6 linked regions of the Homo sapiens genome follow. The gene in region 1 interacts genetically with each later gene. Each region holds a gene or a part of one and is shown on either strand. Other genes may lie near its edges. The genes, in order: GRM2, AMHR2, ERBB4, SSTR5, LARS2 and AKT2.

Evidence for each region.
Region 2: changes in GRM2 (region 1) and AMHR2 together harm fitness less than expected from each alone (positive genetic interaction), as found in Homo sapiens cells (one large-scale study listed by BioGRID).
Region 3: changes in GRM2 (region 1) and ERBB4 together harm fitness less than expected from each alone (positive genetic interaction), as found in Homo sapiens cells (one large-scale study listed by BioGRID).
Region 4: changes in GRM2 (region 1) and SSTR5 together harm fitness more than expected from each alone (negative genetic interaction), as found in Homo sapiens cells (one large-scale study listed by BioGRID).
Region 5: changes in GRM2 (region 1) and LARS2 together harm fitness more than expected from each alone (negative genetic interaction), as found in Homo sapiens cells (one large-scale study listed by BioGRID).
Region 6: changes in GRM2 (region 1) and AKT2 together harm fitness less than expected from each alone (positive genetic interaction), as found in Homo sapiens cells (one large-scale study listed by BioGRID).

The regions. Positions count from the first base shown.
Region 1 is NC_000003.12:51,713,512-51,718,552, reverse strand, and holds part of GRM2 (metabotropic glutamate receptor 2 isoform a precursor), read right to left. Parts: intron 4,590-5,041; coding exon of another isoform or gene 4,570-4,589; exon of another isoform or gene 4,529-4,569; coding exon of another isoform or gene 4,432-4,528; exon of another isoform or gene 3,492-4,431; coding exon 2,416-3,491; intron 917-2,415; coding exon 736-916; intron 515-735; coding exon 441-514; 3' UTR 1-440. UniProt on the Homo sapiens protein: Dimeric G protein-coupled receptor which is activated by the excitatory neurotransmitter L-glutamate. Plays critical roles in modulating synaptic transmission and neuronal excitability.
Region 2 is NC_000012.12:53,426,080-53,429,513, reverse strand, and holds part of AMHR2 (anti-Muellerian hormone type-2 receptor isoform 1 precursor), read right to left. Parts: intron 1,638-3,434; coding exon of another isoform or gene 1,581-1,637; intron 619-1,580; coding exon 504-618; intron 62-503; coding exon 1-61. UniProt on the Homo sapiens protein: On ligand binding, forms a receptor complex consisting of two type II and two type I transmembrane serine/threonine kinases.
Region 3 is NC_000002.12:211,379,847-211,384,887, forward strand, and holds part of ERBB4 (receptor tyrosine-protein kinase erbB-4 isoform JM-a/CYT-1 precursor), read right to left. Parts: intron 4,215-5,041; coding exon 3,769-4,214; 3' UTR 1-3,768. UniProt on the Homo sapiens protein: Tyrosine-protein kinase that plays an essential role as cell surface receptor for neuregulins and EGF family members and regulates development of the heart, the central nervous system and the mammary gland, gene transcription, cell proliferation, differentiation, migration and apoptosis.
Region 4 is NC_000016.10:1,070,691-1,076,383, reverse strand, and holds the start of SSTR5 (somatostatin receptor type 5), read right to left. Parts: upstream 3,638-5,693; 5' UTR 3,562-3,637; intron 1-3,561.
Region 5 is NC_000003.12:45,394,572-45,399,612, reverse strand, and holds part of LARS2 (leucine--tRNA ligase, mitochondrial), read right to left. Parts: coding exon 4,926-5,041; intron 1-4,925.
Region 6 is NC_000019.10:40,235,319-40,240,359, forward strand, and holds part of AKT2 (RAC-beta serine/threonine-protein kinase), read right to left. Parts: intron 4,793-5,041; coding exon 4,727-4,792; intron 3,656-4,726; coding exon 3,587-3,655; intron 2,774-3,586; coding exon 2,651-2,773; intron 1,068-2,650; coding exon 939-1,067; intron 787-938; coding exon 572-786; intron 33-571; coding exon 1-32. UniProt on the Homo sapiens protein: Serine/threonine kinase closely related to AKT1 and AKT3. All 3 enzymes, AKT1, AKT2 and AKT3, are collectively known as AKT kinase.

The sequences.
Region 1 (5,041 bases):
TGTGCAGGGGGAGGGGCAGCCCCCACAATAACCACCCTCCCCATCCCAGAGTAACTTATATAAAAAATAAAAAAGGCCCTAGTTGGGGGGAGGGGCTGGGCTGGAAGCACCTTTGCTGGTTAGGACTGGGGCCTGCCGTCCTCAGCCACCCGGGTCCAGGGCAGAGTGAACCCTGGCTTGCTCCTCTCTGAGCCCTGGGCCTGGCCAGGAGGAAACACAGCTACAAGGGCAGTTAGTGGCCACTGCAGAGGCTCCTGGCCAAGGCTCCTGACTTCTGAGTCTGAAGAGCTGGGGTAAGGAGGTGGGTAAGTGACTTTGGGGGCAGACATAGGGTGGGTAATAAATTATTGCAGTGCTCCAGCCAACTTCCTCCTGGCCCTGGACGTGGGTCTGCACTAGGTTCCCAGGAGCAGCTGTGTCAGGGCGGGAGTATGGGGTCTTCAAAGCGATGACGTTGTCGAGTCCACCACCTCACGGCCATTGCAAACAGTGGGGACAAACTGGGAGCCAGACCCTAAGAAAAGGAAGCCAGAGGTTGGGGCCAATCCCGAGGTCCTCCATGGAGGGCAGGCAGTGGGGAAGCAGGGCTGTGAGGGAAGCCTCCCCTCCCCTCTCCTGTCCTCTCCTGCCAGTGTCATTTGGGGGGCACCTCACCCCCAGACAAGAGATCTCAGCAACCCAAGGAGCTGGACAGGGAGAGGGGAACAGGCAGAGAGGGCTGCTTAGGACACTGACCTTGGCCAAGGCTGGAGCTGGCCCTGGCAGCAGCACTGCCAAAGCGGCTGGTGGGTGCCCGGTGGCTAACCACGTTCTTCTGCGGCTGGAAGAGGATGATGTGCAGCTTGGGCGCAAAGAGGCAGCCAAGCACCACGGAGCCGCTGAGGCTGACTGACACGCACATGGTGGTGGTCTGTACCTGCGGTGGGTGAGTGGGTGAACAAGCACAGGTCAAGACCTGGGCCTGACCCCAGGACCCCCTGCCTGATCTGTGGGGGAGGGAGTGGGGGAGACTAAGCATCCAACACTGGGCTGTGGTCCATTTGCCGGATCCCAAAGCATTGCTAGGAAAATTGGGCACAGTCCCAGCATCAGACCCAGACCATTTTCCCAGGGTGACAAGAGTTCCAGCTGAAGGGGAGAACATGCAGGGGGGCATGTATACACAGGGGTGTGTGCATCTGGGGGCTGCAGGAATGGAGTGCGTGCATGTAGGTGTGTGTGTATATCTGTGTAAGTGCATGTATGTGGGGTGGTGAATTTCTGCAGGTGTCTGCGTGAGTGTATGTGTGCGTGAGTGTAGGGTGCATGGGTATGGATTCATTTGTCAGGAAGATATATGTGTGTGTGCCAGCGAGTGTGTGTATGTGGGATATGTGTGTGTGCATGCATGCATGTGGCTATGTCTGTGTGTACAAGTGTGTGTGTGTGTGTGCATGCATGTGTGGGTACGGTGTGTGTCTCAGGTGAGTCCTTAGCTGCCTGTGATTGGCATGCAAATGCAAATCATATGCAAATGCAGGCTGAGTCAGAGCAGAATCCCTCCCCAGCCCTGGCCTCTACCACCCAAGCAGGTGGCCCAGCAGGTGCAAGCAGAGCAGCCAAGCCCAGCGGTCCCTGGCCCCCAGCACTGTGCCACCACACCTCTGTCCTGGGGAAGGGGCCTTTGCCGGGGCTTTCGCCTCAATTTTTCTGCAGTTCAGACCCTGCTCTGCACTCCCAAGCTGAGTGACCTTGGGCAAGGGATTGAACCTCCCTGAGTCTCTGTTTCTTCATCTGTAAAACGGGAGAGCCATGGAGCTTACTCAAGTTATGAAGATTAACCAAGATAATCTTCTTACTCAGAACATAGCTCATCTGTCACCTCCTCAGAGAGGGCTTCCCTGACCACCCTATCTGAAGCAGCCATTGCCCCTTGGAGCTGGGGAGACCCATTGAGACACAGTGCCAGTTGGAACCAAATTTGCTCAGAAGCCACCAACTGGGGAACAATTTTCACCTGCTTTAGCTTTTCTCAACTCTATACCCTGGATCTCCTCCCCTACCCACCTTGCTTCATCTTTCCTGCCTTCCCTGGCTTCATCTCTCAACCCCTTCTGCAGATGACCCCTCAGTGGAGCAGGGCAGAACCCTGTCCATTTGAACATATTTCTGCACCCCCATCACCTTCCAGGATAGGGGATGACATTCAAGTCCTGAAATCTCAGCTCTCTCTAACTCGAGTTCCCCACCTCCCTGGCCATTTCCCTAGGTCCTATTCAGCCCTCCCACCTTCCCCTTGGGATCCACACAAGCTGTGGTCCCCTGAGTGGGCATTATCCTCTTGGAACCCCAGAGCTACCAGTAGATTAAATAAGATACCAGGAAACAGAGGGTCTGGTGTCCCATCTCCCCCGACCTCTGTGGCAGGTAGCTCACCCGGTAGTCACTGGAGGTGACATAGAAGATGGGCAGGAATGCCAGCCAGATGATGCAGGTGGTGTACATGGTGAAGCCAATGAACTTGGCCTCGTTGAAGTTTTCGGGGCACTTGCGAGTCTTGAAGGCATAAAGCGTGCAGAGCGCGATGAGGAGCACATTGTAGGCCAGCGAGCCCAACATACTTGCATCGCGGTGGTTGCAGCGCAGTGTCACCACCTCCCGCCGTTCGGGGGCTGTCTCCTTGCCTGTGCCCGGTGCCTCCACCACCAGCCAGGCGACCACGATGAGCAGCTGGCCCGAGATAAGTGCCAGGCAGATGGCCACCTGTGAGGCAGGACTGATGAAGCGTGGCCGCTGGGCACCCTCCCGGGCCCCACCGAAGATGCGTGCAATGCGGTTGGTCTTGGTGAGCAGGGCTGAGTAGCAGACAGAGAAGGCAGTGCCCAAACCAAGACGCCGTAAGGTACACACTGCCGTGGATGGCTTGGCAATGAAGATGAAGGTCATGCAGTAGCAGAGGAAGACACCACCCAGCAGGATGTAGCAGAGCTCCCGACCTGAGGCCTTGACCACTGGTGTGGCATTGTGCCGCACAAAGACACCCAGCACAAAGAGGGTGGCCAGGGCACCGAGGCAGGCGATGGTGACAGGTCCCACAGCCCAGGCATCGCCCCAGCGGATGTACTCCTGGGGCAGTTCGAAGCAGCCAGTCAGGCTGGCATTGGGCCAGTAGCCCAGGCCACAATCAGCGCAAGTGAATTCGTCCAATCGGTACTCATAGGGCTGGCACGGAATGCAGAGCCAGCAGCAGACTTCGCCCGGCTGCACACTCTTCACCTCATTCTGGAGGCAGGGCTCACTGCAGCGAGAGGCGGGCAGGGGGCCGGCTGAGGGTGAGGCCCATGGGATGAGGCTGGTGTCCAGAGTCAAGCCTTCTGCCCAGTAGCCCACCTTCTGGTAGCGATAGCGCCCACTGCCTGCACGCAGATAGGTGAAGATGTTGTAGCGGCCAATACCATCACCAAAGCGGTCAAAGCGGACCTCATTGTGGGTGTCAGCTGGGCGAAAGGGGGCTAGGATGGGGGAGGGAAGGAAGAGAAGGTTGGACTAGTGTGTTACCCTGATGTGACCTCAACATTCACCCTAACATGGAACCCAAATGCCAGAGCTAAGACCACCATTAGCCCTTCCAATCCTTAACCCAATACTAAATCCTGCCTTGACCCCAATCATTTTTCTAAATGAGAGATGACAACAAAGTCTTACTCCTAAACTCCAACATCAAACCCCAACCCTAAATGCCAAATGTAATCCCAGCCTTAAAGCCCAGACATCTCCAAAAACCTAATGCCCACATCAATCCCCAACCATGACTCCCCAAATTCAACTTTAGTACTATCCAACACTTTCCAACCCAGGCTCCAAATCCCAACTTCATCGAAACATACACTACAGCCCTCTCCCCAAACTCAATGCTAAGGCTAAACCCAGTCTCAGCTCCAATCCTGTCCCCACTAATCCTAACAACAACCCCAGCTCCAGCACCCCTAGTCCTAACAGTCATCCTGGTGCAAACTGAATCCCAACCTCACTGGTCACCTGCAACCACTGCCATTCACCAGAATGTGGTCAGTGGCTGGAAAATCACTTCCTCTCTCCACCCCCACTTCATCCCCTGTAAACCTCACATCTCCCAGCCAGGCTCTAGCCAGGATTTACAGCCATCCCTGGCCCCAGTGAGAAATCAGGGTTCAAGAAAGCAGAAGACATGCTTAAGGCCCCATGAGTGAATAGTGCAGCCTAGATTCAAACCCAGGTCCCCTCAAGCACCTACTCTTTCTACTCAGCCTAAAAGTTCTCAAAATCCAACTCTAGCCCTACCATAAATTCCACCCAAGCCAAACATGCTGAATTTAGCCTTGCTCTAACATCAACCAAATCGGACCCCAGATTCCAACCCTAACCCCTACACTGATTGTAGCTAACTCTGAATGTCAGTTCTATTGGAAGTACTCTTCATCTTAACCCTGGGCCAGGGCTTCCAAGCTTTGTCTCCCACTGTTCCCACGGTGATTCTTCCTGAAGCATAGTGATGATCTGCAGCAGTCATTTCTCTTAAAGCTGGCACTCTTATTAAAATAACTTTTGATTTCAGGAGACTTTCAGGTCACCTTGAGTGGAAAATCAAGATTAGGAATAGAAATTTTCCCTGAAGCTAGGAGCAGTGCCACATGCCTGTCATCCTAGCTACTCTGGAGACTGAGGCAGAAGGATCGCTTGAGCCCAGGAGTTGGAGGCTGTATTGTGCCTGTGAATAACCACTGCACTCCAGCCTACAAAATATAGTGAGACCCCATCTAAGAAAAGAAAGAAAGAAAGAAAGAAAGAAAAAAGAAAGAAAAGAAAAAAGAAAGACAGAAAGACATTTTCCGTGAATATAGAGCGTCATCCTGATGCTCACCCTCAAGCCAGACTGATTCTAACTCTTGGTGCTGCCTGAGAATGGGCTTGAGGTCTCCTGGTCTCCACCTTTGGCAAGATAAGGAGACAGAAGACAGTGGGCAAGGCCCAAGGAGGAGCCAGAGACCCTCAAAATGGCGGGACCAGGCCAGAGGTCTACTCT
Region 2 (3,434 bases), on another chromosome or scaffold:
TCCCGAATGAGCACATTCTGGCTGCTCAGATCTCGGTGGGCAATACCTGGTTTATATTGGCCTGTGGGGGAATCCAAGGTTGAAGGAACATGGATTTTCTTCCTCCCTCTTTTTTTTTTTTTGAGTCGGCGTCTCGCTCTGTCGCCCAGGCTGGAGTGCAGTGTCGCGATCTCGGCTCACTGCAACCTCCGCCTCCCGGGTTCAAGTGATTCTCCTGCCTCAGCCTCCCGAGTAGCTGGGACTACAGGCACATGCCACCACGCCCGGCTAATATTTTGTATTTTTAATAGAGACAGGGTTTCACCATGTTAGCCAGGATGGCCTCGATCTCCTGACCTTGTGATCCGCCCACCTCGGCCTCCCAAAGTGCTGGGATTATAGGCGTGAGCCACCGTGCCCGGCTCTTCCTCCCTCTTTTGACCCAATCTTTCCCCTCCAAACTAAGGCAGAATCACAAACATAGCACTGTGGCTCCCTTGACTTCCTATGCCCAGCTCACCCACCATTCTGCCAGCGCTCCTCATGGAGAAATGCCAGGCCCTGGGCCAGGGACAGTGCCATCCGCAGGGAACTTCCCCAGTCACTGGTGTACTGGGTCAAGTAGTGGCACAGGGAGCCCTGGGGAAACGCAGAGAGAAAAGGATGGTACACAAAGCTGGAGACGGCTGATCCATCCCAGGGAGCAGAGATCAATTGACAGTCTTCTCCCTGCATCTCCCCAGCAGACAGACACACTGATGGATGCTGGCCAAGACAATAGGTAGAGGAGTAAGACTGTGCATCAATTGACATGAAAAATAGTAACTCTAGATCAAGGGTACTGGGCACTTACTGTGGTCCAGACCCAGTGGATGTGGCCTCCTGTAATCCTTGTGAAAACCCTAGAAGGTAGGTGCTCCTGTCACACCCCCATTTAACAGATGAAGAGCTTTTCCTTACAGAACTAAGGAAACTCTCTTGAAGTCAGTCGGTGAGGCAGGAGTGGAGCTTGAATCCAAGCAGTCTGACTCAGGATCACTTACTAATAACCACCACCTTATACTGACTCAGAAGACATGCGGCAAAGACAGTAACAGAGGAGGCAGGGCAAGCTAGTCAGGGGCATCCTTCATGAGTCACCTTGTCTGAGGTGTCAGGCATGTGTACACATAGACGGGCAGAGCCAGTAGATAACAGAGTAGCAGGTGGAGGGCAAGTGGGAATTGGAGGGAAGGGAGCAATAGAACCCCTCATTCAACAAGTGTCATCGAGCACCTTCGGTGGCCACGAACTGTGTTCAGGCACCAAGATGGCTCAGGGAAGGTAAGAGATAAAGAATGCAGTAAACCCCAAGATAGGAAAATTAACCGAGTGCCAAGGGGCATAAAGCAAGAATGACTAACCCTGCCTGGAGAAGTCAGAGAAATTAAACAAACAAAAAAACAGTGATTTTTGAGCTGGGCCAGGAGGTATATGGTCAAAGAAGGGACTTTCCATCATTCAAGATTTCAGAAGTACAGAAGCTGTAGGTGCTGAAAAAGTTCAGGGAAGAGCCACTGCATTTGGGCTCTGAAACAGGTGGTGGAGGTTGAACTACTTACAATAGGGCAAAGTGAGTTGTGGGGAGCTCTTCCACGTGGACAGAGACACACACAGTCCTGATGGAGGGGTAAACAGGAGGCAATAGACACGATGATGAGGAGCCAGCTCTAGAGTCACATAGATTCTGGGCAAATGACTTTCCTTTTCTGAGCCCCATGTGGATAATCATTCCTATCTCATAATGTGTTTGTGAAGGGTAAGTTTGGAAATGTGTTTAAAGCGTGTAGCATGGCCGGGCGGGGTGGCTCACGCCTGTAATTCCAGCACTTTGGGAGGCCGAGGCAGGCAGATCACTTGAGGTCAGGAATTTGAGACCAGCCTGGCCAACAGGGTGAAATCCCGTCTCTACTAAAAATACAAAAATTAGCCAGGAGTAGTGGCGGCACGCCTTAATCCCAGCTACTCAGGTGGCTGAGGCAGAATTGCTTGAAACCAGGAGGTAGAGGCTGCAGTGAGCCAAGATTGTGCCACTGCACTCTAGCCTAGTCAACAGAATGAGACTCTGTCTAAAAAATAAAATAAAATAAAATAAAATAAAAAGCGGGTAGCGTAATGCCTAGCAGGAAGCAGATGGGAAATGGTATGAAAACTTAAAAAGCCCCAAATATTTAACAGGCCCACAGGGCCTGGTGTGGCTGGCCTCTGCCTACCTTTTCCTCTTCTTGTTGCTCATTGCTCTCCCCTTCAAGTCACATCTTATTATTCTTATAGTTCATTGGCCCTCTCTCCTAGCACTTAGCACACTTGACATTTGACACTCGTGTTTACTTGATCCATTTCTGTCTCCCCTGCTAGTCTATAAAATCTGTAAAAGAGGGACTGTGTGTTTTTTGTGGCCTCTAGCATAGTGCCTGACATATAGTTCATACTTATTTGTTGAATGAATACGAATGAGTTTGGAGGGCTGTGCCTGAAGATATTTCTTTAACAATTTTTTTTTTTTTTTTTTTGGCTGGGCACGGTGTCTCACACCTGTAATCCCAGCACTTTGGGGGGCTAAGATGGGTGGATCACTTGAGGTCAGGATTTTGAAACCAGCCTGGCCAACATGGTGAAACCCCGTCTCTACTAAAAATGCAAAAATTAGCCAGGCGTGGTGGCAAGCGCCTGTAATCCCAGCTACTGGGGAGGCTGAGGGAGGAGAATCGCTTGAACCTGGGATGCTGAGGTTGCAGTGAGCCAAGCTTGTGCCACTGCACTCCAGCCTGGGCAACAGAGCAAGACTCCGTCCTCCCACCAAAATAAAATAAAAATATATAAACATGTATTGTTTATGTAATAAAAAAGATAAATAAAAATTATTATTTTGAGACAGGGTCTTACTCTGTCACCTAGGCTGGAGTGCAGTGGCACAATCTTGGCTCACTGCCAGCCTTGACCTCCCCAGGCTCAGGTGCTCCTTCCACTTCAGCCTCCCAAGTAGCTGGGACCACAGGCATGTGCCATCACACCCAGCCAATTTTTTGTTTTTTGTAGAGGTGGGGTTTCACGGTGTTGCCCAGGCTGTTCTTGAATTCCTGGGTTCAAGTGATCCTCACACCTTGGCCTCCCAAAGTGCTGGGATTACAGGCGTCTGCCACCGTGCCCAGCCTGTTACTATTTTTTCACATGGTCTCGCTCTGTCTCCCAGGCTGGAGTGCAGTGGGATGCTCACGGCTCACTGCAGCCTCAACCTCCTAAGCTCAAGCGATCTTTCCACCTCAGCCTCCTGAGTAGCTGGGACTACAGGTGTGCACTGCCATGCTGAGCTAATTTTTGTAATTTTGCAGTGATGGGGTTTCCTCATATTGCCTAGGCTGGTCTTGAGCTCCTGGGCTTAAGCGATCCACCCACCTTGGCCTCCCAAAGTCCTG
Region 3 (5,041 bases), on another chromosome or scaffold:
GCTTAAACAATTTTAATTTTCTTTTCATTTTTGATACTTCAAGAAGCACATTAATAGTCCTTCCAACTTCATCTAGTAGCAGAGCCTCACACAGTCCTTTTCTTGATTTTTCCTTAGCATTGTAAGTATGCACAATCTTCATGCCATGTCTTTCCTTTAGAAGGTATTAGCTCACACACTATAACACTTAAACACTATTCCTTCTCTTAAATTAGATATTCAGTCCTTCTCCCTAATCTACAAAAAAGAATCACTTGATTTTAGTTTGTGTGTTTTAATAGAAATTTGAGTTTTGCGTTGTTTTTCATGCTATTTTAAGAATGTTACTGGAGAAAGGATTCTCATCCTAAGCTGTGCTACTAATACTATGCAGAAAACCAGGAGCTGCTTGGTAGTCTAACACCTTTTGTGGTGCAGATGCTTTGTGGTTCTGGATCTATCCTAGATCAGAGGCCATCTTTCCTCACCTGTTTACCACTTTCTTTAGGCAATCATTTAACTGCAAAATTTTTCCATACCTGCCCAAAATAGGTATAATCTACAAAGTTGGGTGATTTAAAAAATATACTCCGTGTAATTTTAATACTAATTTGTCTCAGATTTACATAATTGATTCTGCAAATTTCAATTGCTACAATTGGCCTCTGGAATCTGATATCCCCCCAAGCACTTTGAAGACTTTAACTGACATTTTAAAATTCTACCCTACTGGACTAAATAAGTTATTCTCTGGAAGGAATGAAACTTTTTTTCTCCCTCTTATACATGCTGAAATATGTTTTCCCAGGGGGGACAAAAATAAAACAAAAAACACTCAAACAACTGAAGTCAATTATATACTACAGAAATCATTCAAAAGAATTATAAAGTGGTGCTATTATAAAGCATTTGGGTCATTTTGGATTATTCCTACATGCATCTCTAGGTATTACCCAACATGTAGAAGTCTTGTGTTCTTAGGAGGAAAGAGACATTCACTAAATACATTTCTGTTACCTTAACAGTTAAAAGTTTGTTTTAACTATTCATTTTTTCCTTCTCCAAAATGAGTGATTCTGCTTTCTATAGCCCAGTAGAAACCATATGCATATTGTAAATCAGAAAAAAAAAATCAAGGTATAGTATCCAAAAAGAGGGCTGTGATGACTCGATGCAGATTTATTTAGAAAGGGAGGCTTATATTCAATTTTTCATAAGTACTGATATGAGATCCCTTTTCCTAGAGACTTCTCTGAATGGATAGGAGAGCCCTGAGCTATTAGATTGTGGCCCCTGAATCACTCTGTGTCTTTACCCCTGAAAAGTTTGAGGGTGAACTTCACTAGAAGGAATCTCACAAACCCTTCTCCTGCTCTACCATACTTTTTCAGCTCGCCTCACTTCTTATAGCTTAGAAAAAAACCAACTCCAATGTCTCCAATATTCTTGGCCAAGGACCACCATCTGCTTTTGGTTTAATGGTGAAGTTAGACTCTAGATAGGCTAATTAGTCAGTGATGCAATATTCTCCTAGACCAGTTTATGTTTGAATAATATTATTGAAATTATCCTGTTTGTCAACATCAACAATTTGAAGGATGTTTAACTTATATCCCAAATGAGTTTAAAGGAGATATCTTACAGTACAACTGATTATATGACAGCTATTCACAAAAGAGACTATGCAATCTGATTGTTGGAACGCATAGAAAAATTAAAATGTCATTTTAATTAAATCTCCTAGATCATAGAATTTTGAAGTTGAGGATGATATTCCATTTATCTGAGTGTTCCCCACAAAACATGGTGCTTTTAGTAGACACAGTTAGATAAAGGAGGTTTGGATGGATGGATGGATGGATTTACTTGTTCAGAATAGGAAGAAACACAAATTTCTTTGGATTTTTTTCTCTAAACTTTCTCTGCCTTAATAGATATTTTTACTCTAATTAATTAATCTTATACTATTGATTCTAATTTGGTCCCAATATTTTAACATTAGAAATATTTTTTAAAAATCTAAATGACTTGGGGTAGAATTTTCAGAAAAGGGCGACTTATATCTAAGTTTCCTAATTATTGATGTGAGGCCCCCTTTACTTGGAGACTCATCTCTGTCATTTGTTCTCATCCTTCATCTCATCAGGTATTCTTTCAAAATGATACATAATAATGATGGTTCTAGTACTGGATGCAGTATATGAAGAAAGGGAATTATATAAAGTATCAAAAGATTAGTGTGTTGGATAATAAAATAATTGCATGAGAAGATGTTTCACATTTATTTACAACTTTTGACCCAAGGACCTATCCCTAAGCTTTGAATGTTTGTGTTTTTCTTTTTATTATACCAATTTATGTGCAAAGAGTTACCTTCTACTTCATATAAATAGTCTCATACTAGAAATTCCATGGAATTCAAGCCAATCCTTACTCGCATTCCTTCTTACGAAGTATACGAACTGAACAAATTTCCTTGCGTAGCAAAGGTGACATATGAAGATAATGTGCTGGCCTCTCATCATAGTCCCTGGATACCGTTGCAAGGTTCCTAATTTGCTTGGTTTGGCATTTCCACAGTCTTTATCTTAGCTCTTTTTTTAAAAATGTACTTAAATTAGTTAATTTGCTGGTTGCTTCCATATTGCTTGATTCAAAATCCAAAATGGAGTTCAGAAAAAGAACAAATAAAATTACAGCTTAAGTGCAAACTACATTTCTGAGTATCTGCCAGGTAGACATACCCAATCCAGTGTGTTTCTTCCAGTTCAATGGATTCCCTCATTGGGCCACCCCTGAAAGTATCAGTAGTTTTCCTGAACCACAGAGAACTGTCTCTTAGTTTCCCTTCTACTCTTCAGACAACCAACGGCCTATCAAGTAGTGTCATTTATGGAGAAAAAAAAATGTTGAAAAATGTAAAGGATGAGGGTGAAGATAATTTGATAGCATGAAAAATATTAGCCTCCCTTTCTTATTTTAAAGATTGTATACTTAAAGTAGTGGCCATTTCACTATATTAAAATATTTCTTGCTTAAATTCTGTGAAGAAGCTTTGATGTAAACATCTTTGCAATTAGAAATTAAAGCCAAAAATAGGGGAGCAAATATAAAGGAATCGGTCAGAGCAAAACAAAATGAAAAAAACCAAAAAGTGTTGAAAACATAATTACTAGTTATAACTTTAATGGAGATTTTTAAATTATGAAAGTTGAGTTGGCCATTCTTACTTGCTAGGACAGAAACTGCTGGGGAAAGAAACTGGATTCTCAATTTCAGACACCATCATATGTTATAGAAAATGTTATTCTTTTGTTCTAATGGAAACTTTATTATGATTTCCAGGGATGCTAAATATGCACACATCAGTTCCTGCAGATAGGAACAGATAGCATGGGTGTTTCAACCATCTGCTTTAAAAAAAAAAAAAAAAAAGAAGAGGAAGAAAGAAACAAAGAAAGAAAAAGAAAAAGAAAAAAAGTGACAGCTAGTTTGATAGTAGGCAGCATTGCCTTACATTTTCTGGTCCTTCTCTAGCTGTTTCATTCTCCTGACCAACCCATGCAGAGAAATGAAGAAACATTGTGGTTCCTCCTATCTTTCTCTTTCAGTCTTTCCCTCTAATGTTCAAGTTAGGTAAGCACATAACTATCATTGCATCTCTGTATCTTCCACTGGGAAGTGTCAAAACTACTGGCCTTGGGGTAGAAGGAAGACCACCAGAGAAAGAGAGGGGGGTGGGGAAATTGGAGCAGGTGTGTCTCTCCACCTAAAAAACCACAACTGAGCTTACACCACAGTATTCCGGTGTCTGTAAGGTGGAGGCGGCAGCACAGTGCCTGGCTTCAGGGAGAACTCAGAGAGGTATTCAGGATTCTCTGCCACAATAGGCCGGATCCGCCCATTCTGTTTATAAAAATATTTTGTGCTGTACTCCTGCAGGTAGTCTGGGTGCTGAAGGGTGCTCCGAGGTGGCAGGCTGTGGTTCCAGTAGTCAGGGTTGTCAAACGCTTTCTTGGCCTTCTCTGGCATTGACAGTATGTTGTTCTTCAGGTACTCAGCTTTTCCCAAGGTGTTGGCAAAGGTGTTGAGGTACAGTGGCTCATTCACATACTCATCCTCGGCCTTGGGTGGACCATTGGATGCATTGTGATATTCGGGATTATCCAATGCTTGAAGGTCTCCATTTTTTCTCCGAGAAACAAAAGGGTTCTCCTCCACTGGATTCAGGTATTCTAAAGGAATAAAAAAATATCAGCTAACCTCTAGTTTCTGGAAAATATTAATCAGACCAAGGTTATACATAATGGTTAGCTTCTTTGTCTAGAACAAAAAAACCCACAGATTTGTTTTCATGATTTCTCACAACAAGTATTTGTGGATCACCATTGTCTTATGAAAAAAAGAGTAAGTGGGTCAAAAATGTTTATAATAAAACAAGAAGCCAACGAGGCCAGAATCAGAATTTCTATCTCCTAAATTTTTCTTTCTTTCTAATTGCATTTGTCTCTTCTGCATATGGGGCTGGTTGTTTCAATGTTTTTGTTTTCTAAAAGTTATTTATATTAGGAAATAAGACTACCTATTAGGATTAAATAGTCTTTAAATATACAGACAACTTAACTTCTATAAAGGATATTGAAAAAACAAGAATCTATAGCTGAGTTCCATGCCAAGATGAATAGATGGAGTGAAGAAATCATGTTTTTTAGTCTCTATGGTTTGCTATGATTGCCTATACTGGTAACAAGGATTTAATTGGAGATGCTTCTGAAAAAGGTTTTACACATGGAAAAGAAAGCATCAAAGGAAAAAAATTCAACTAAAAAAGCAAATCTAACAGATAGCTAACATGCCTCTAGTTGACCTGCTTGACATTACATATACTTCTACTTAATAGTAAAGTATAATTATAATATTTCCATTGACCAATCATAATCACAAAGTAGCAAACTATCAGCTTGAATTATATAAAATAAAATAAATTTTGTATATTGAAACCAGTCAATTAGTGCCTATTTTGTACGGATCAATCTAATAAATCCATCTAGTATAGGTATTG
Region 4 (5,693 bases), on another chromosome or scaffold:
GACGGAGCAGTGGCCTCCACGCAGACCCCGGGGTGGGAGAAGAGGGGAGGTGGGGAGGGAGAAAGAAAGACAGGGTGTGGGGAGAGAGGGAGGGAGAGGGAGAGGGAGAGGGAGAGGGAGAGGGAGGGGGTGGCAGGGAGGGAGAGAGAAAGATAGGGTATGGGGGAGAGGGAGGGGGAGGCGGGGAGGGAGAGAGAAAACAGGGTAGGGGGAGAGAGAGAGGAGGGAGAGGGAGAGGGATGGGGAGGCGGGGAGGAGAGAGGGAGAGAGGGAGGGAGAGGGAGGGGGAGGGGAGGAGAGAGGGAGAGAGGGAGGGAAAGGGAGGGGAGGTGAGGGGGGAGGGAGAGGGAGGGGGAGGTGGGGAGGGAGAGAGAAAAGGTGGGGGGAGAGGGAGGGGGAGGAGGGGGAGGGAGAGAGAGGGGGAGGTGGGGAGGGAGAGAGAAAGACAGGGTGGGGGGAGAGAGGGAGGGAGAGAGAGTGGGGGGGGAGAGAGAGAGACAGGGTAGGGGGAGAGAGGGAGGGAGGGAGAGGGAGAGGGAGGGGAAGAGGCCTGTGGCTCTCCGCTCCCCAGGGACCAGCATGGAAATCCAACACGCCATGTTTGCGGCTCCCTCTGGCTGCCTGTGGAGCATGCATTCCGGAAGGACAGTGGTCTGGAGACAGCCCGCGGGCTGCGTGGGAGTCCAGGTGGGTGGGATGGCGGCCCAGGTGCAGAGGCCTCTGAGCTGCACCCTCCCTGGGGAGGCACTTTCGGCCCATTCCTCCGTAGCAAGGAGGCCAGGTGGAGGGGACAGAGGAGCCACCGATGGTGGGACAGGGAGAGGGCGGCTGTCGGGCTCCGGTCCATCTCCAACACAGGCCCTGGGTCCCCAGCACGTGTGGTTCCCAAATGCCTGTTTGATTTTTTGTTTTCGAGATGGGGTCTTGCTCTGTTGCCCGAGCTGGATCGAAGTGGTGCTGTGATCACAGCTCACTGCAGCCTCGACCTGTGCTCAAGTGATCCTCCTGCCTCAGCCTCCCTGTCTTTGTAGCTTCTTAGCTTCAGAGGAGCCTCAGGGTTCCTCCAAGGCCACTCCCATGCCCAGAGCCCAGCGAGGGGCTCCACAGGCTGCCAGGTCCCCGGCTCTGCGGCCCCCAGTGCTCCACCTCCGGAGTTAGACTTCAGAGCAGCAAAGGACACAAATAGACCATTATTGCTGTACCTGACTCTTGGAACATAATTCTGCAAGAGCCGTTATTTGGAAGCAGTATCCTCTGAATCATAAAATTACGCACTCACGGGGAATTGTCCCGGTGGCCCTGTCCCTTGTGGGTGGGGGATTCACTGGAGGGGGAGCCAGCAGTAGGAGCTTTCTGATCCCGAGCCCTCGGCCACGAAGGGATCTGCTCAGCCTGACATGGCACTGGGAGAGACCCCGGCCCCTGACCACTCCCCACACGGGCTGCGTGGTCTGGGGTAAGTCACGGGCTTCTCTGAGCCCAGCTTCTGGGATAGGCAACTCCTGCAAACTGTAGGGTTGCTGAGCTGATGAAACTGAGTGAGCTTCTGTGTGCAGGGTGCTGCGTGCATCCACTCCCAGCAGCATCCATCCCTCCCATCTCCTGCCCCCACCCCACAACTCACCATCTGCAGGTGCCCGGTGTGCCAGGGTCAGCCCAGAAGCCACAGGGGACCCAGATGGCCCCAGTCTGCCCACAGCACCGCTCCCGGCCTCACCTCCCCACGACGGGGACCACAGCGGGGCTGGCATACACTGGGCGCTCAACGATTGCTCCCACAAGCTGCCCTAAGCAGCCCAGCATTTCCCCAGCATCCAGGAGGCCGCTGGGCTCCTCGGAGAAGGGGGCAGTCTTCACAGGGGCCTGGGACCAGAGGCGGGGCCTCAGCACCAAGTCCTCCATGACTGGGTGGAGGTCTAGCCTGCACCCTGCCAACTCCTTCCAGGCTAACCCAGCACGAGGTCGGGGAGTCGGCTCCTTCATGGGGGGCAGCGATGCGGCTGCAGCTTGGAGGGGCTGCGGAACCTGCTGCTCGGGGAGGCAGCGGCTCACACGGCCGGGGCCCACGCCGCACCCTGGAGAGGCTGCAGACCCACCCGGGCTCCTCCATTGTGTGCTGGGCAGGGGCAAACGTCGGGGGACACCCTAGCTAAGACTACAGGCCCCAGCCCCTCCAAAGGCCCCGGAGCCAGGCCTGTGCTCCCAGGACAAGCGTTCTGACCTGTTTCCTCTGTCGTAAGGGTGGCCTGGTGGCAGGCCACTGCCCCCTTGGGGTCCAGCTCTGTGAGTGCAGCCAATGGCACCCCTGCCTGTCCCCCACATACACGCCACCTGTCCCTGCGGCAGCCTGTGGCCAGGGGCACATACCCTCCCCAGGAGAGGGAAACTGAGGCAGGTGTGGGCCAGCCTGGAGCAGCAGCAGCAGGGGTCCCGCGTGCTCCGCGAACGCTTCTCGGGGCACCCTCCACACCAGGCACCTCCTGACAGCCTCGCTGGGTCTTGCTCTGGAAATCAACGCCAGGCGCCTGTCCTTGGTGCTGTTGACCAGTTTCTGCCCAGGAGGCTCTGGCAGTCCCCACCTACATAGTCCAGAATCACTGCCTTCAGAAAGGGCTCAGCCTCACTGGAACCATCCCCAACTTCTGTCACCATGCACTCCGCTCTCTTGCCCTTGAGGGGGCCCCAGGCAGGCTGGCAGGCTGGGGACAGCGGGTCGGGCACGTGGGTGGGTCTGGGGTGGGGGAGGAGGGCCAAGGGCACACACCCCAGTGGCGTGTTCTCTATTCTGGAGAGGGTGAAGACGCCAGGAGGATTCCAGGTACACGCGGTGCCTTGGACAGGAGGGGGCTCTGTTCGCAGCGGGCGGGGTGGCACCCCAGCCTCCCCAGTCTTGGGTTTCAGGGAACCCATCTGTGAGTGCCAGGTCACAGGGCCCCTGGGTGCTGGCCTCTGCCTGCTGCCTTCCAGGAGCTCACCGACCCAGCTGCGCGCAGGCACCAGTTGCCTCCCCCGGCACCCAAATTGCGGATCCTCCCCTCGCTGGGTGCCACGGGCACCCTGGGACCCTCCTTCCGTGGCCCAGTGGTTCCCTGTGGCCTGAGTGCCACTTCCGGCCCCCAGCCCCAGGCTCCGAGCCCTCCCCAGCCTTACCCACCCTCCTCCAGCTCCAGGAGCCAGCCCCGCTGTGGCCCCCGTCGTGGGGAGGAGAGGCCGGGAGCGGCGCGGTGGGCAGAGTGGGGCCATCTGGGTCCCCTGTGGCTTCTGGGCTGACCCTGGCACACGGGGTGCCTGCAGATGGTGAGTTGTGGGGTGGGGGCAGGAGATGGGAGGGATGGAGCTGCTGGGAGTGGATGGAACGGGAGGGGAGGGACCCCCGGCGGCGGCAGGAGAGCCCCGCGGGTGTGCGGAGGGCGCGTGGGGGACAGTGCGTGCAGCGGGCTGGGGGCGCACGGCGGGACCCCGGGCCGGGGCTGCGCACACAGGGTGAAACCCCCAGTGGGGATAACAGCCGAGGGCAGGGGGTGCCCGCGCGGGAGGGGGACAGGGGCGGGCGGCACTCACCTGGGCGGCGGCGCCCTCTGAACGGGGGAGCCCCGATGTCCGCGCGGCACTGGCTCCGGGCTCCCGGGCGCCGGCTGGGAGGGGGCGGGGCGGGGCGGGGGCGGGGCAGTGCCTGGTGGGGGCGGGGCAGGGCCGCTTCACCTGCTCGACTCCCGGGTCCCACGTCTGGCCTCCGGGAACCCTGGCGCACTCGCCCACAGCCCTGGTCCCACTGGCAGTGACCCCATGATCGCCTGCGCCCCCACCCTATTTTCTTGCTGTCCGCTCTGTGGTAGACCCCAGCTTGGGGTGGGGGTCCTGCCGCCAGCAGGAGTCCAGGGGGTCCCTCGTCGAGAGTCTGAAGAGGGTGGAGGGTCCTTGTTCAAGGGGAGAGGGTCAGGGGCTCTGCAGACGTCTCTGAGGGGTGGGCTGGGGTTGTGGAGATAAGTGGGTGTGTGGAGGCTGGTGGGGGCGGCAGGCAGCCCCAGCGAGGGGGGTCCGTGGTCGTGGGATTTCCAGGACACTCCACTCGGGTTTTATCCATGCCTTATTTGTGGATCCTACACATATTTAAGCATAGACTACCTGCTAAGTTGTTCTTTTTATTTCCCCTGAAATGAATCCATGGGTACACCTTAGTCCCTCACCTAAGGTGGGGTTCTCAGGCAGGCAGCAGAGTCACCTGGGTCCTCAAAGCAGATTCCTGGGCCTCGAGCTGGGCCCCCGACTCCCCAGGCAGTGAGGGCCTGGGAATCTGCATTCCTGAGAAGCTCCCGGGATGCTGATCCCCGGGCCCGCCGTGAGCGCCGCTGGTTGTAAGAAGCGGGACCGAGCGCCTCCTCCCGCTGAGCGCGGAGGCTGGGGATCACCGGACATTTTCCCACCAGGAGGTCCCCCAGCCCCCTCCCCTGACTCTGTGCCGACCCAGGGAGCCCCGCCACTGGCTGAATGAAGTGAGGCGCCCCCAGGTGACAGCAGAACTCGGAGGGCCCCTCTCTGAGGGGACATGGGAGCAGCCGCCTGCCGTCTGTTCACAGGTGGGGTCGGCTCCTGTTGAACAGGCGCCAGCAGCTCCCTTGAAGGCCGGGTACCGGGACCATGTTCTCTCCTTTAAGCGTTTCAGTGTTTCCACATGTTCTGCAAGCAGCGCGTGTTATGTTTACCATCGAGCAAGAGTGCTTAGAGGACCATGGCACCTGGCCCCAAGGTCCCCTCCCCTCCTCCCCAGCCTGCGGCCATGGCCAGGCCCTCAGGGGAGGCTGCAGGCTGGTCCCAGGTCCCCTGCCCAGAATCCGCCCCATAAGCCTTTCCATCCTCTCTGGAGGTACCTGGGCTGTATCCCTCCCACCCTCCCACAGCAGTGGCTTCCCAAGGCAGATCCTCTGAGAACCCCCTTTGTGACCCCTAACGCCTCCCCCATCTCCATCTGCTGCCCCTCCCCTCAGCCTCTGCCCACCATCCTCATGGTTCTCGCCTCAGCCCCTGGCTGTGTTCCTCCAGCTCCCACTGCCTCGCACCTGGGCCCCCATCTGTCATGTTCTGGGGCTCCCTGAGAAGCCTCTGGGGTCCCACTGTTCTGGAATCACTGGGTGCCCCAGGGGTGCAGGGTCCGGTGTGCGAGTCACGGCCCAGCGCCCAGTGGGAGCTCAGCCCTGCGGGTGGGTGGGCGCTGGATCTACTCACATCCCCAACATCAAGCTGGGACACCCCCCACCTCCAAGCACCTGGGCCCTCCTGGGGGCCTGATGGCCAGAGAGGGGACCTGTCGGCCCCACAGTGCCCCTCCCCACATCGGCCACCCTGAGTTCTGGGCAGGAGTCCCCTGGCCTCAGTCCCACCCACCCCAGGAGGATCAAATGAGGTCATGCCCGCCTGGGACGCTGCAGAGGTCAAACCCAGCACCGTGAGGATTAGGGGCTGCCAGTAGCCATGGCAACCGATGGTGGCTGGATGGACTCCGCAGGGACGGTCCTCAGACCCCTCTCCAGGGACCCCACCCTAACTGTGACCTGTCCCACGGCCCGTGACACCCCCTCTCCTGAGGCTGAGGACAGCAGCTCCCGGACACAAAGCCCGTGCCCCTCCCCCACCAGGCAGAGGCTTGGTCACTGGGCTGACTCCCCTGTAATTATTCAAAAGCAACAGGGGCTGAC
Region 5 (5,041 bases), 6.3 Mb from region 1:
CCGAAGAGAGGGTTCTTGGATCTCACGCAAGAAAGAATTCAGCGCCAGTCTGTAGAAGAAAGCGAAAGCAAGATTATTAGGAAAGTAAAGGGATAAAAGAATGGCTACTCCATTAAAAAAACAAAACAAAACAAAACAAAACAAAAAAACACTTCTCTTTTAAGACAGCTTCTATCTAGGTCCTTAAAGAACTGTTTGTTTTTCCGAAGGAAGCTCTAACATACATATATCCATATAATTCAAAGAAGCAATAGTTGAATCACATAGATGTAACATCTCTAAAAATGGAGTCTCTTCCTAAATTCTCTATAGCTGCATTCTGACGTAGGTTTAGCAGTAATAACAGGATCCTAAAGTACCAATTTGGGTCCTGAGTTTCCCCATTGTATTGAGAGCCTATCTTTCAACAAAAATGTTGAAATGGGAAGGTAATGAGAAGATCCTTTTAAAAAGGGAGAAGGTTGTTGTTCTCCAGGGATGATAAATAAGCAGCCTCAGACCAGGGTTATATAACTCTCCAGCTTCCAAAGAAGCAGCTTCATCATGAGAAACATAGACAACTGTACATGTATCTGAACAGAAGGAACACAGGCCAATGAGTCCTTATTGGATCACTGACTTCTGGCATCTTAATTCTTCCCCTGGTAAAATGATGAATGTCGTCATGAGTGTGCACATGAATGGATAAGGCAAACAAAGATGGTAGTCCTTGAATTAACTCCTACTGGGGGGACCTACTGTTCATGGGGGGACCTACTGTTCAAGGGCAAGAACTGTGCTTTAGTCACCTCTTTCTCCACGTCTGCCCCCAGTGCCAGCAGGAGTTTCATAAAATGTTGGATAAATGTTCGTTGGCCTTTGTGCTCCAAAAGCCTGATAACTGGCCCCTATGGAGCACTTTTTACCCAGCAAACTTCACAAATCCTACCCAAGTAATAGGAGGGTTCCCCACACCCAAGTTTAAATCATCTCATGACAGGGTCAAGGGTGGAGGGGCTGGAGAGAAAGGAAGAGCAACAGGTAACTGGGTAACTGATTCTGTTTCGTCACTAAGGGTCAGAACTTCTGCTTTTATTTATTTCTGCCTTCTGTTTTTTCTTCCTGGCCTTATTCCCTTGCTAGAACTTTACTCCAGTTCTTTAAGAATTTGCTTCCCCTGAAGTAATGCAAACAAACACGAAACAGAATATTCATAACCCTTCTTTTATGTACATATGTGGGATGGGGTTTTTAAATATTGTTTGCTGAATGTTCGCATGACTGATAATACACATAAACCAAATATAATCAGTAGAGCAGAAGAAACCAGAAATCAGATTCTTGCCAAGGAGTTCGTAAACTTCTTTCAGCAAAGAAGTTAAACAAACCTTTAACGGAACCATTAGCACGTGGCAAAAAGAAACCCACAAAAACTAGAGTAGAACTTTTCTTTGTGCTGCCCATCCTCTAGAAATTACCAAGGAGTGTTAAGCTGCCTGAAGGAAGAGATGGGAAAAAGAGAACAATTAAGAAATCTGGATCATACACAAATTAGAAAATCATCTGGAACTGCTGAAATGACAACTACAATGGATTTATACAAACAGGATGGAAAGCAACACATTGGTCAGACACTTTAATTAGAAACTGCAGATTTATAACTCTTAGGAAAACCACAGAAATCTGAGAGAGGACCTGAGATTCAGGGGTTGGTGGGAACTCAGGAACTTAATAACTGTCCTTAAGAAAGTGAGTGGCAGATAACCTTCTCAGCTTATGAGCAAGTCGTCCAAGGAGGTACAAGACCCCATTCTTTTACTTAGTGCAGAATCAGAAGAAAACTATCCACTCAATTCATGCCTTACTCCTTACAATGAATTAGGCTTATGGCTTATTCTTCAGAAATTTTTAGGAATATGGGAAAATAGCTGTTAAGAGTTCTTTGGGAGCTAGGAAAACAGTAAAATCCTTGATCTAAGCTGTTTCTAGTTTTTCATTTGAAAGTTTTTACATAAAATTATTTTTATTATACTAATGTTTGTTATGTATTTAATTTACCAATCTTGCCCCAAACATTTTCCACCTGTAATTTCTTTACTAGCATCTCTTGTTTTACATTTGTTCAATAAAGATTAAATTAATAGCAAAATCAAATGAATAATTATATACTAGCTAAGCCAAAATCCAAATCTGAGTTCATAAAAGATACATAGAAAAGTATTGTTTTCTAAAGTCTTTAATATTCATGAAGATTTCTGTTTATTACAGAAAAGGTATTCAGCTTATTGCCTGTCCCTGCCTTTTGCTTTTCTGCATGAATTAAGTCATTTTCCTCTGTGACAATGAAATGAGTTCTATCATCTGGGGGTGGAAAAGAGAGAAGGAATGATGGGAGTTTCTGTTATAATTGAGCAAGAATCTGATTGAAAGGGAAATTTTCATAATTATATAAAAGTATAAGAATTTAAGCCTTTAAAAGAGATTAAGATTTAAATGATAGGGAAAGGATGGCTTTTATAAGTGGGTCCTATTATTTTTGTCAGCTTCTGACTTTAGAAGAAAGATGACTTCTGCCTCTTTATAGATCACGCTCTGAAGCTGTGGCTGAGCCTAGAGGGTGACAGAGTAAAAGGAGCACCTCAATAGGAATCCGGAGCCCCAGTTCTGGTCCTAGCTTTGTCACTAGCTGTGAGGCCTTGGGCAAATTCTTTTGCCTTCTGGGATCAGTTTGCTAACTGTAAATCAAAGGTGAGACAAAAGAAGGTTTCTGTGTGGAAAAGCATGAGCTCAGGAATCAAACACACATTTGATTTTGAATCCTGGCTCTGCCATGTCTTGGCAAATTACCTAAACCTTTTTCTGAGCCTCAGTTTTCTTACTCCAAAAATGAGGATAATAATACCTACCCGCTGGGTTGTTTCAGGATTAAATGAGATAATCAATTGAAAGACAGTGCCTGGCACATGGTTAAATGCTCATTAAATGCAAATTATTTTTTAAATGATAAATATGGTGATTTCAAGACATTCCATTTCAAAAAACTTATGTGAGTGGATTTCAAGTGAATCTGATACCAGAGTGAGATCGATTATAAATGCTTCAAAATCCATGAGCATTCCGTCATAGTCTCAGGTCCTGATAGACACACCACGTTCTGATCTTTGTGTATCTTTTATTTATGTACCACTTCAGTTTGTAAAATGCATTTTGTCACACATTTTCTCATTTGATTTTCAAAACAATTCTGTGAGATAAACAATGCAAGGAGCCCAGAATCCAAAACATTAAATGATGTGGCCTGGATCACACAGGTTTCCTGGGGCAGAGCCAGCATTGCAGCCCAGGCTCTGGCTCACTCACTGAGTGCTCACTCTGCTTTGCCATTCCTTGATTCAAACCCTGATAGGGGGCTGCCAGGGGATCACACACAATGCCCCTTATGCTATCTCCCCAATTGCTAAAACAATTTATTTTGATCCATTTGATATTTTAAAAAACTGTATGCTTAAGAAGAATGAGATGTCACAAAATCAGTAAGCTACAACATCAAAACATTTGGAAGTCAATAAATGATTATCTAAACCAAAAGGGAAAAAAAAGCTAATTTTACTGTCCTCACTCAGAATTAAACTGCTCCTTAAGAGTTTGTTTTCAAAATCTATTAAGTTACATTAGTCTGATGATGTTGACACAAGGGCTTTTCACTTCCTAACAAGGTAGAAGTCAAGCTTTCATTGTAAAATTATGTATTACATTCAAACCTTCCCTTTTTTTCATTTCATTTTACTTGTTACACACTACATCTTTTTCAATAGCAATTTTTCTTTCTAACCATTGCCCAAAATCATCTTTCAGTTTAACACAAATAGCTCTCCTCCCCTTACTCATTTTTCATAACCACCAATCTCACAGAAAGAATGAATGTGTTGACCGAATCAGGAGATGGGGAAAAGGCAAGTCTAGAGAGGTGTGGTCTTGTGCAGCTGTACTTATTCAGCTGCTTGCCTTGGGCCTAATCTCTTTATTAAACATAGAGGGTTTGTATTATTTGACTATAACTACTACAAAGAGATGATCAGAATTTAAAACTCCAATCAGATTCAAACATTTCATGTAACAATCACATCTCCCAGCTGTCATTTTGACCAGTATCAAGAGGTAAGGGTTAACACGTTCCAGACTGATTCCCAGCAAGCTGGCCTCCCAGAAAAGGAACAGAGAGCACTCTGTGGAAACTGGCTGCAGCCAAGTATTATGCTTCCACCATTAATTCAGGTAGAGTGCCGAGCTGGTGTACCTGGTGCAGAAGCCAAGGGTCCACTAACTCATGTAGCTGCTACCTCAAGGTTAGACCCTACCCCAGTTCACAACAGTGAAAGGGCTGGTGTGCCCCAAACCATGATGCTAAGGCAGCAGAACAGAGTTGGAGGCTACGATTGCCAGGGAAGGGGCAGTTACTTCTCAGAACATGTAGCCAGCGAGGAGCCCAGGTGCCTCTCCTGGAGTCTCAGATATGACCCTGCCAGATCCCTGTGTGCTGCCCCACCATGCAATGGACCACAAAGGACCCATCATCTGGTAGAGCTCCTATTTTGATGAGCTTCCCCAGTAAATGTTGCTCTAGAACACCTGGTTTGCTGCTGTCTGTCATACACCTCGTGCGCAATATTACTATGTGTGCATCCACCACATTGGAAACTCTTGTAAACACTACCTTTGTATCACCTCATTTATGCCTCCCAATCCATTTACCCCTCCCAATAGTGCAGGTGGGCACTATTATGATCACTCTCCATCTCAGATAAGAGAATTGAAGCACAGAGAAATTCAACAATTTGGTTCAAGGTCACATATTTAATATCTTATTTGAACCAGGTAGTCTAACCCCAGGGTCCAAACCTTCAACCCCTCTTCTCTACCCTCTTAGAATCTCTCAGAATACTCACATCAGCTTCTGAAATTTTGGAGGCCTGTTCTTTTATTCGTTGATGCCACCATTTCTCAACATCCTTTCTTGTCTGCAATGTATACTCTTTTGTCCACTTTCCCGTGGCACTGTAGA
Region 6 (5,041 bases), on another chromosome or scaffold:
CCTCCTTGGCATCGCTGGGCCCCCCACCAAGCCTGTGCAGAGACGGCCGTCAGCACCTGCCTCCCGGAGCAGCTGGGTTCGGGCAGACGGGCTTTCGGAGCAGGCAGGCCCTGTATGGCCCTTAATGATTCTGTCTTGACCACAAACCACTTCACAGAGGAGGAAACCGAGGCTCAGGGAGGGAGCTCACGTGCCCAGGGTCAGAGCCAGGGAGTCAGCAACCCGGACCCACGTGTCCTCACTGCCTGGCCTTACCCTGAGTCCAGAAAGGGAGTTAGTAGGGCAGGCTCCGTTCCTATCCTGGCTCTGCCACATATGGTTTGGTGGCCCCAGCCAGGCCCAGGGGATGCCCTGTTCCTCAGTGTCCCCATAAAATAAGGCAGTGTCAAGGATGGGCCTGCCCTGGGGGAAGCACTCCCTAAGTGCCACTGTGGACGTTTTCAGGGGCTGTGTGGGGACGACACACTGCGACCCTACAAGCGAGCACCCTTGTGGACGCTGCCCCCTCCAGGCCGCAGGGACAGTGGCAGCAGCTGGCGCTGGGCTGGGTGGGGCCGACGCCAGCCCTCACCTCTGCTTGGGGTCCTTCTTAAGCAGCCCAGCAAGCAGGGACTTGGCCTCGGGGCTGAGCGTGCGCGGGAAGCGGATCTCTTCCATGAGGATGAGCTCGAAGAGGCGCTCGTGGTCCTGGTTGTAGAAGGGCAGGCGGCCGCACATCATCTCGTACATGACCACACCCAGCCCCCACCAGTCCACGGCCCGGCCATAGTCATTGTCCTCCAGCACCTGAGGATGGAGGAGAAATGAGGGCTGGGCCCGTGGCCCTGAGGCTGGCATCACAGTCCTGCCCTCAGGGCATCTGGGCTGGAAACACACAGGTCTGGGGGATCCCCCTACCCTTGGCCTCACACGTTCCTACCCCCACCAACCCCAGACACCTCAGGCGCCAGGTACTCCGGGGTCCCACAGAAGGTTTTCATGGTGGCCCCGTCACTGATGCCCTCTTTGCAGAGGCCAAAGTCAGTGATCTTGATGTGGCCATCTTTGTCCAGCATGAGGTTTTCCAGCTGTTGGAAAAGTCAACGGATCTCAGGTGCATGCTCCCAAGGCTTCCTGCCACCCCAGCCTTTCCTTCCAGGGAAAGATGCCCGGGGCTCCTGGACATCAACCCTCCCATGCCAGGCTGGGCCCAGCACACACAGCCTCACCCTCTGAGGCTCAGAGAGAGGCCAGATCCAACCCTCCTCACCCTCTGGCCCACCCCCATGGTACCTGGGAACAGCTGGGCAGGGAGAGCCGAGAGCCAGGCCCTGTCCACCCACCGTCCCCATTGTGAACTGTGGTTCTTATTTCGAACGTGGGGGCACTAGCTTTCTTCTATTCTTTTTTTCTAGACTTTCTGTCCTTTAATTATGAAATATGCAGCCAGGCAAAGTGGCTCACACCTGTAATCCCAGCAATTTGGGGGACTTAGGTGGCAGGATTGCTTGAACCCATGAGTTTGAGACCAGCCTGGGCAACACAGCGAGACCCCATCTCCATATTTCTTAATATGAAAAAAAAAATTAGCCAGGCATGGTGGCACACACCTATAGTCCCAGCTACTTGCGAGGCTGAGGTGGCATCTCCCCCTGGAAGGCCCTGTGTGCCCCTCCCGGTTACTGACCATCCCCCACAAGAATTAACCTCTACTTCCCATCTGTACCACTGCACACAGACACACCTGTGAACTGTGGACTCACCTCCTCTGTGCGGCTTTCCCTCGACATTAGCCTATGAGACGCGTCCACACTGTCGTGTGTAGCTGTAGCTCATTCCTAACTGCTGTGTGGCGTCCCACTGTGAGAACACTCCACAGTGGATCTGACTGTTCCTCTCACAGTGGATACTTGGGTTGTTCCAGTTGGGGCTAGAGTAAGTCCTGCTGCTGAGTGAGGGGGACACTTTCTAAGGTGAGTGTGTGTCCCCACTTCTCCTGTGCACACAGCTAGGGCAGATGACTGGTGCTCAGCTTTGGTGGACACTGCCAAACTATCTTCTAAAATTGGCCGGGCGCGGGGGCTCATGCCTGTAATCCAAGCACTTTGGGAGGCTGAGGTGGGTGGATCACAAGGTCAGGAGTTTGAGACCAGCCTGGCCAATATGATGAAACCCCGTCTCTACTAAAAATACAAAAATTAGCTGGGCATGGTGGCGGGCACCTGTAATCCCACCTATTCGGGAGGCTGAGGCAGGACAATCGCTTGAACCCGGGAGGCAGAGGTTGCAGCGAGCCGAGATCACACCACTGCACTCAACAGAGTAAGACTCCTCAAAAATAAATAAATAAATAAATACAAATAAAGTAGGTATTGTGGCAGTTGACACTCCGCTAGTGGCCTAGGAGCGCTCATGGGAGGCTTGGGAAGGTCCCTACTTGGGGCAACTTGCCACAGAGCCACCACCCTGGACCTTGGTGGGGAGCCTGGTGAATGAGGGCAGCCACCACCCTGGACCTTGGTGGGGAGCCTGGCGAATGAGGGCAGCCACCACCCTGGACCTTGGTGGGGAGCCTGGCGAATGAGGGCAGAAGCTCAGCCCAACTTCCCCAGTGTGAGTCCCATGTGGTGTGCATGCCACAGGTCAGCCTGGCGCACACCCTGCCACTAACCTTGATGTCGCGGTATACCACGTCCCGCGAGTGCAAGTACTCAAGAGCCGAGACAATCTCTGCACCATAAAACCGGGCCCGCTCCTCTGTGAAGACACGCTCCCGGGACAGGTGGAAGAACAGCTGCAGGAGGAAGGGGTGGGGAGAGGAGGTCAGGCCCCAGCCCACCCACCTGCCCTCACCTTCCCAGCCCCCTGCCCCAGCGCAGTGATGTGGTGACACCTGTATCATGAACCAGCAAGTGACAGCTAGAGGGACCAATCAAGGCAGAGCGCAGAAGCTCATAAGTGACACAGAGCTGGGGGGAAGGGCGAGGGTCTGCCAGGAGGCACCCATGAGAGGGTATGGGAGAGACATCCGAGACAGGAGGGAGGATGGCATGGAGGCAAAAAGAAGCACACGTCATGACCAAGTAACAATAGGCCATGGGCAAGCCCAGATCAGACAGATGAGCAAACCACGCATCCCAAAGCAGGTGTGCCAACCACTGCACAGAGAAGGCGCGAGGCAAGGAGTGGGTGACAAAAGTGAGGCGACTCTGTAAGGGGAAGCTGAGCGGCTGCGGGAATTCACTTCGAGAGGACACGGGAACGGAGGGCTGCTAGGTTTTAACCCTTGGGGGCTTTCTCTGGGGCCTTTAAGACCATCCTTCCCAGTGCTATCGCCCCACAGCCCTCTCCACACCTCTCTGGACTGGTTTGGACCTGACCCACCCACTCACTAGCTGTGTAAACTTGGGCAAGCCACTTAACCTCTCTGAGCCTCAGTGACTGCCCCCCCAAAATGGAGACGAAGCCGCCTGCCTCAAGGGAGAGGGGCACTAGATGACACTGAAATTTCCCTCCACCCTTCCATCTCACCCACAGCTCCTCTCCATCCCGCCCCACCCTAAAGAAGGAGGCCCCAGAGGGCAAAGTCAAGGCAGCCGCGGCTCACCTCACCCCCGTTGGCATACTCCATCACAAAGCACAGGCGGTCGTGGGTCTGGAAGGCATACTTCAGCGCCTGGGGGATGAAGGCAGCAGGGTGGGAGGTGGGAGGGAGGAGGGCTCTGCTGAGCCATGCCAGGGCAGGGCCCTGGCCCTGCTTATTCTGCACACACACACCCTGCCCTGGCTGGGGCCCCCAGGAGTCAGCCATATGGGGTTCACATACCGGCTGCACCTTTTGGGGCATTAAGTGAAGGCATGGCTCTGCGGTAGGAAAGGGTTACATGCTGAACCATCTTGTCCTCTGCCTCCATCAGGCACAGCCAAGGGAGAACTAGAGCTGTTCTGAGCAACCATGGCTCTTGTTTTTACAGTAAAATGTGTTCAACTTACACACACAAGTGATGTCTGCTGTGGCTGGGAGTGGCAAAGGCTTGGGAGCCAACTTCAATGACAGGATGGACAGGCTGTCAGTCAACAAACAGTAGTTCTCCACTGCACTAAGGAGATCTACAGAGAGTTCCTCAGAGACTCCCACCAGGGGGTCCTTCAGCTCATGACAACTCAACTATTCTGTTTTCTGCACTGAGGTACCTCATAAGATTTTATTTGAAAAAGTACTGTGGCTTAATAGGATACCTGGACAGCAACTGAGATAAAGAAATGATACATAAGCCATCCTCAATCTAGTCCATTTAACTGGTGGCCACTGGCCTTGATGGAGACTGCAGCCCAAACAGGCATCTACTCAGTCCAGGCTGACAGACAACACAATGCTAACACATCTGCTTCTATGAGCATATCTGAAAACAAAAACAAAAAAAATAATGTTTCCACTTCAACCAGCTGGGCTAAGTGCTCCTAACTCATAGAGACAGCAGCCAGCAAATAATGTGATATCTTCAGTTAGTTCAAATGCTTACATGAAGCCACCATCTATGAAGAAGCTGTCACCCTCCCACTCCCCGAGCCTGCTCACCCCCACCACATGTCTTGGTTCGGATGACTTGGCAGGGCGCAGCAACACCTTGCCCTGCCCGCCTGGCCTACCCCAAGACTGTGCTTTGTACCAGAAGATTAGGGCTCTCTCTCTGAGCTCTGTCCAAAGGCTGGCCTCACACTGTCTGGGAAGGGGAGGGCAACTCACAGTGAGGAACGGGTGCCTGGTGTTCTGGAGGACCCGGCTCTCGGTGACTGTGTGAGCGACTTCATCCTGCAGACAGACTGCGGGTGAGGGGCTGGTGGGCAACACCACACCTGCCCACTCCGCCCCGACGAAGGGGAGCAAGGCCTTGTGAAATGCAATTCCATTCCCAGCCATAAATGCAGAAAATCACAGGAGTGAAAAGTGAAAGCCTGCAAACCCTCAGCAAATAGCAGACCCAGACGAGGATCATCAGTGGCTCTCAAAGCCACAGGTGAAAAGTCAGCAGGAATGTCACAATGTAAGGACCAGGCTGCT